2 separate regions of the Homo sapiens genome follow, and region 1 is linked to region 2. Evidence: fine-mapped expression QTL. A gene starts in region 2. The other region holds a variant in brackets. All regions are shown on one strand. Distances are from middle to middle. Region 1 overlaps EDAR (ectodysplasin A receptor). Region 2 holds the start of EDAR (ectodysplasin A receptor).

Region 1 (2,907 bases), 24 kb after region 2:
ATCTGAGCACTTTGGGAGGCCAAGGCAGGTGGATCAGTTGAGGGCAGGAGTTCAAAACCAGCCTAACCAACATGACAAAACTCCGTCTCTACTAAAAATACAAAAATTAGCCTGGCATGGTAGCGGGTGCCTGTAATCCCAGCTACTTGGGAGGCTGAGGCAGAAGAATTGCTTGAACCTGGGAAGCAGAGGTTTCAGTGGGCCAAGACTGTGCCACAGCACTCCAGCCTGGGCAACAGAGTGAGACTCCATCTCAAACAAACAAACAAACCCATGCACAATTGGCTGGTCTTTGGGACAAACCCCAGTAAAGAGGGTCCCTCTCTGTCTCCCTTTCACTTCATCATGTTAGTGGAGTTGTTTGTCCTACTCAGCAGTTTAGCCAAGAATAGTGGTCCCCAGGCAATCAATCCTCCCTCCACTGTGCTCCCTTCCAGGGCTGGCACTTGGCCTCTGCCAGCAGGCCATGTGGGCTCAGTAGCTTGGGAAGCCCTTCTCTACAGGCAGAGCCAACACAGCTGAAGCTCATTTTCTCAGAACCCCTATAGCCAAACACAGTAGTGTTCCTGAAGACAGTAGGGTTTCCTTACTATTTGAATGCACTTGGGCACCGTAGAACTCTCTGATGACTATTGTCCAGACAGAAGATGACCTCTTCCTCATAGTCTTCAGGTTGAAAGAGCACAGGGTATGGCTGAGACCACAGGCTCTGACCCCACATAACTGCACCGGGGCCCGCGAGATGAGGCATAGGCCTTCCTGTGCCCTGTGAGGAGTCACTCCAGAGGAGCTCTGCCTGCGGCTGGCCTCCAATGCCACTGCATTTCTTAAGGCTTTGAAGGGACTTAATGCCAGTCTCAGCATAGTAAATCTAAACCCTTCACCCAAAGTTCATGTGTTAATTGCAAAGATCATCTGACTTTAAAATATTGATAATAGAAATGACAAAGACGGAACTTGAGTAGGCAACAACATGCAAGGCAGACAGGTCTTTGCATTCTTGAAATTTGATACTTAAGATGACAGGGGCAATAAAAGACCAGGAGGAGAGGCTTGCTTCAAAGTTGGTCTTATCAAAACACCTTGAGGTGTTAATGACTTTCTTAACAGAACTCCAAGGCTATAAACTGCTTTAGATCCAAGGATATGGTGATATTGAATGTTTTAATTGTGGTATTAACAGCCCCAGTTGTAAAAGGGAAGGTGTCACTCAAAGATGAGGGACAAGGCCTGAATTTTATAACCGAATTTAATTGGCACTGATTTGACGTTGATAGTACCTGGTTTTTCCAGTTTTCAGGAAATATTTCTTTGCCTGGGGGGAGAGGGGGGAGCACAGAAGGGAAAGGTGGAGGGAGAGTACATGATGCAGGAGGGGAGGAGAGGGTGCTGCACATCAAAAGGCCCATCTTGAATTTCCTGTGATGTGCTAAAACCCCAGCCCCCCACCACCACATCAATGCACAGAGCAGTCACACCTCTCCTACATCAAACCCCAATTACTACACACCCAGGGAAGGTGCCCAGCTCTCCCACTGCAGCAGTCACCCAAATGAGAAGGAAGGAGGCATACAGACACCCAAAGGTAAGAGGAAAAGACCCAAAGCCAGTAGAGCCCAGGAGGAGAAAATCCTGATGGGGTAAAAACCTTCTAAGGATCTTCCTGTCTGTAATGTTTTTCTCTCCCCAAAAGACCTGTATCTGGGAACAACTGGGTCATTTATTATCTTTTTTTTTTTTTTTGAGACGAAATCTCGCTCTGTCTCCCAGG[T/C]TGGAGTGCAGTGGCGTGACCTCGGCCTCCCGGGTTCATGCCATTCTCCTGCCTCAGCCTCCCGAGTAGCTGGGACTACAGGCACCCACCACCACGCCCAGCTAATTTTGTTTTTGTATTTTTAGTAGAGATGGGGTTTCACCATGTTAGCCAGGATGGTCTCGATCTCCTGACCTCATGATCCGCCTGCCTCGGCCTCCCAAAGTGCTGGGATTACAGTCGTGAGCCACCGCGCCTGGCCCATTTGTTGTCATTAAAAGATATAATCATGACACTTTGGACACTCAAAAAATAAATACCAGTACCCTTCACACACACACACAGACACACACATGCTTGCGTGCACACACACTTTTCTAAGTGGGTGGCATAGTTAAAAAATGTTTGGAGGAATATTAAAGTAAGTTTTTAGAATGTTCATGTAAAAGAGGCAGGTTGTGCTATTGAAGAGAGTCTTAGATCATTAAAAAAAATTTAAATGTTAAGCTGAACTTTATAGGATTTAATTAGAATGAATGAACTGTTCCTTATTCCAGACGTGCTGTTATTAAGTATGTTTTTGTCATGCTACACAGTTTGTGGAATTATTTCCAAACATTTGGGGTCTGTGGCTCTCTGGAAGGTCTTCTGATTAGGAACCTCAGCTCTCTGGGTAGAAGCAAGCCAAGGGCTGCTGCCTGCTGTCACTTAGTGAGCACTGAGTGTGGCGTAACGGAGAGTGTGGATTCCAGCACTGGGATGCTCTCCTGTGGACACGCCTTCAGCACTTCTTCTTTCTGGAATTGGAGTGCTATTTGCTGCTCCATTTGCTCAGAGAAACCTAGTTCTTTAAACAGCTGCCCTTTGTTGTTAAAAGATTATCCTCATTTCAGTCACTGGTGACTGTGGTTTGGTTGGGCTTTTGGAGTTTGTTGGGGTTTTTTTCCCCCAAAGTACCTGATTTCCTCTTAGAGTAGGGACTTTTATTTCTCATATTTTGGGTTTCCTCTTCAGTTTAGGGAAAGATGAACAGCTCCATGACCTGATCCCTTTTCGTCACAGTTCCCTGTTAGTGGGACTGCTTTGGAGCCGTGGCATCATGTGGCAGAGACTGAGACTTGAACTGGAGTCCAGATGACCTGGCAGGGGCTTCTGGC
Region 2 (2,907 bases):
CCTGAAAATTCAAGTTAAAATTCTTGTTTGGGAGCTTATATTATCTAGATTAATCATCCACAAGGATCAAGTCAGCTAAGTAACTCTGGTTCAGCTTAATCTCTGTGGAGGCAGAATTAGTCCTTTACAGTCTAGGTCCTTGCCCCAGCCCCATACATTTCTGTCTGCTTTTTTCTTTTCTTTTCTTTTCTGTTTTGAGACAGATTCTCGCTCTGTTGCCCAGGCTGGAGTGCAGTGGCACAATCTCGGCTCACTGCAACTTCCATCTCCTGGGTTCGAACAATTCTCCTGCTTTAGCCTCCACACATGCCACCACCGGCTAATTTTTGTATATTTTTTTTTTTTTTTTTTTTTGAGACGGAGTCTCGCTCTGTCACCCAGGCCGGACTGCGGACTGCAGTGGCGCAATCTCGGCTCACTGCAAGCTCCGCTTCCCGGGTTCACGCCATTCTCCTGCCTCAGCCTCCCGAGTAGCTGGGACTACAGGCGCCCGCCACCACGCCCGGCTAATTTTTTGTATTTTTAGTAGAGACGGGGTTTCACCTTGTTAGCCAGGATGGTCTCGATCTCCTGACCTCATGATCCACCCGCCTCGGCCTCCCAAAGTGCTGGGATTACAGGCGTGAGCCACCGCGCCCGGCCTAATTTTTGTATTTTTAGTAGGGACGGAGTTTCACCATGTTGGCCAGGCTGATCCCAAACTCCTGACCTCAAGTGATCTGCCCGCCTCAGCCTCCAAAGTGCTGGGGTTACAGGTGTGAGCCACGGAGCCCAGACTGTTTCTTTCTTAAGCTCTTACTTTCTCATGTGTGAGTTACCTTGTAGGTTTCCAAGGCAGAGGGGACAAGATGGAAAAGGAGAACACAGAAATCTAGCCTGGAGGAGCTGCTCTGTTCCTGTATTTATCTGTGTAGGTGTGAATGAGGGAGAAAATGACAAGAGAATGACATTATTTTAAGGCTGTTTTCCCCCCCCCAATCATTTACTTTTTGAGAAATAATTGCCCAATACTGAAAGGTATGTCCTTTCAAAATGTTGATGTTTCAAATGGCTTCCTAATTACCTAGTTATACGGGGGGTGTGTATGGTTATCTGAAGTTACATGGGTATACACTGGTGGTGTGAGGTGTCCAGAGAGAGGAAAGGAAGAGCAGTCCTGGTGGCTCAAACCCTGAGGGATGTGCGGGGGATGGGTGAGAATGTGAACAGACATGTTGGAAGCTGAATCCGTGCAGTGGCACCCATGCCTGTAGCCATCTCAGTGGGGGGTCCTTCTACGAACAAGCTTTGATTAATGATATTTTAATGCTAGTTTAGCTTTTTAGCACTCCCACGCCTAAAGGCTCTGATAGAAGCAAGGCCCCCACCCCTGCAAAAAAAAAAATCCATGATTTTTACGCATTCCAACAGATCTCTTAAGGGGCAGACGGCCGGAGAGCCAGGTGTGCCAGGGACCTATGGCAGCAGGGCTGAACGTGCCCGCTCCAGCCTCTCCAGTGCTGGGAGAGACCTCTAGATGGTGCAGGTGAGTTTGCAATGAGGGAAAGCCCCTCGGCAAGGACTGAGTTTCCAAACTTGCAGACAGGGCAGGGAGCGGTCAAGGAAGAGTTCCCGGGAAGCCCTTTAAACGGAAAGGAAGCGGGGCTAGTGTCAGAGAGGTGTGCCAGGTCCCAGGCAGCCCTGCTGGCCCCTAAGGACATAGAGTACCTGCTTCTGAGAGGGCTGCCACGGTGGCCACCTGTGAAGCCTGTCACCCAGAACTGGATGGTACCTGACTTTCTTCATAGACCCATCTTCTGCTGGGACTGAAGCTGACCTCCAACAGAAGCCAGGTAAGCCCTGGTCCTTTCCTCTGGTTTTCTAAACTCTTCAGCTGTGGCCGAGACGGAGGTGTCATGGGCTGGGAGAGAGGCTGGGTGCATTTTTGAAATGCATGTCATTTTTGGGTTGCGTTTGAACAAGCTTTACCGATTGCAGTATGTCTGCGCTACCAGTTCTAAGACCTGAGATTGTTCCTTTGTTTTAGAAAAACATCAGAAACCCTGTTTTGCTGTTGGTTGCACATTTGGTTAGGGAGACAAATTCTGTGTGTGCTTCACAGGCTTTAAGATTTGGGCTACTGAAGCAACGGGTTCCTCCAGGGAGCGTGAAAAGTATGTTTCTCAGGTTTGCCCCTGTGCCCGGCTCACTGGGGAAGGCAGGCGCGGCAGGGACTCTAGCTGGGCTCTGTACCTGCCTCCAACTCTGCGTACCCGCTGTGACCTAAGAGACCTTCCAAGTGGGGTTTCCAGTCGTGTCTGAGACCCCCCATATCCTGGCCTCTGTGTTGGTGGCGGGGGAGCGGGGAGAGGGAGAGAAGGAGGGGAGTGGGTACCTATTTGTGATGATTGAGGTTTTCATTTCCAGCCAAGAGGTTCCTCTCAACACTCTGACAGACCGTGGGGTGGGTTGGGCTCCTAGACAGGAGTCGGCTCTGATTCAGTCGGCTCTGATTCCCAGCCTCCTGCAGCAGCCAAGCTTTGAGATGTCAGCTCAGGGAGAAGCGGGTGGCTGGGCAGGGAGGTCAGCAGGCGAGGTTCCCACTGGGTTTCCCTGCCCATGTTGTGCTGGGTCAGCAACAAGAGGGACAGTTAAAATCAACAAGCAGGGCAGATGCCGGTCAGTGGGCAATCCCACACAGCCAGGGGTACACGCATGTGAGGAGACGTACGGAGAGACAGGAGCACCACCGTCCTCTTCCCCAGTCCCCAGGCCACTGCTCTGTGGCTCTCAAGTGGCATTTTTGAGACACTTTCTAAGCAAGAGTGAAAGTGTAACAAAGAAGTGAAGAGCCATAATAGACTGAAGGAAAAAAGGGATCCAGGCATCTAAAATAGAGAATGTTTCTTGCCTGGCTTAATACTCTGA

Evidence for each region. PIP is the estimated chance that this variant, and not a neighbour inherited with it, causes the effect.
Region 1: its variant is the best candidate, but not a certain one, in a credible set for the expression of EDAR in whole blood (TOPMed, PIP 0.77).

Annotation. Positions count from the first base shown.
Region 1 is chr2:108,964,301-108,967,207 of GRCh38, reverse strand. The region is part of intron 1 of EDAR (ectodysplasin A receptor); the gene reads left to right. It also overlaps a transcript of RANBP2 not described here. Among named protein-coding and RNA genes, the nearest start is that of EDAR, 23 kb to the left of the region's middle. The variant T/C (reference allele first, on the strand shown) is at 1,772.
Region 2 is chr2:108,987,885-108,990,791 of GRCh38, reverse strand. EDAR (ectodysplasin A receptor) reads left to right here and starts at 1,572. Exons shown (of 12, transcript NM_022336.4): 1 at 1,572-1,832. It also overlaps a transcript of RANBP2 not described here. RefSeq lists an enhancer at 2,598-2,907.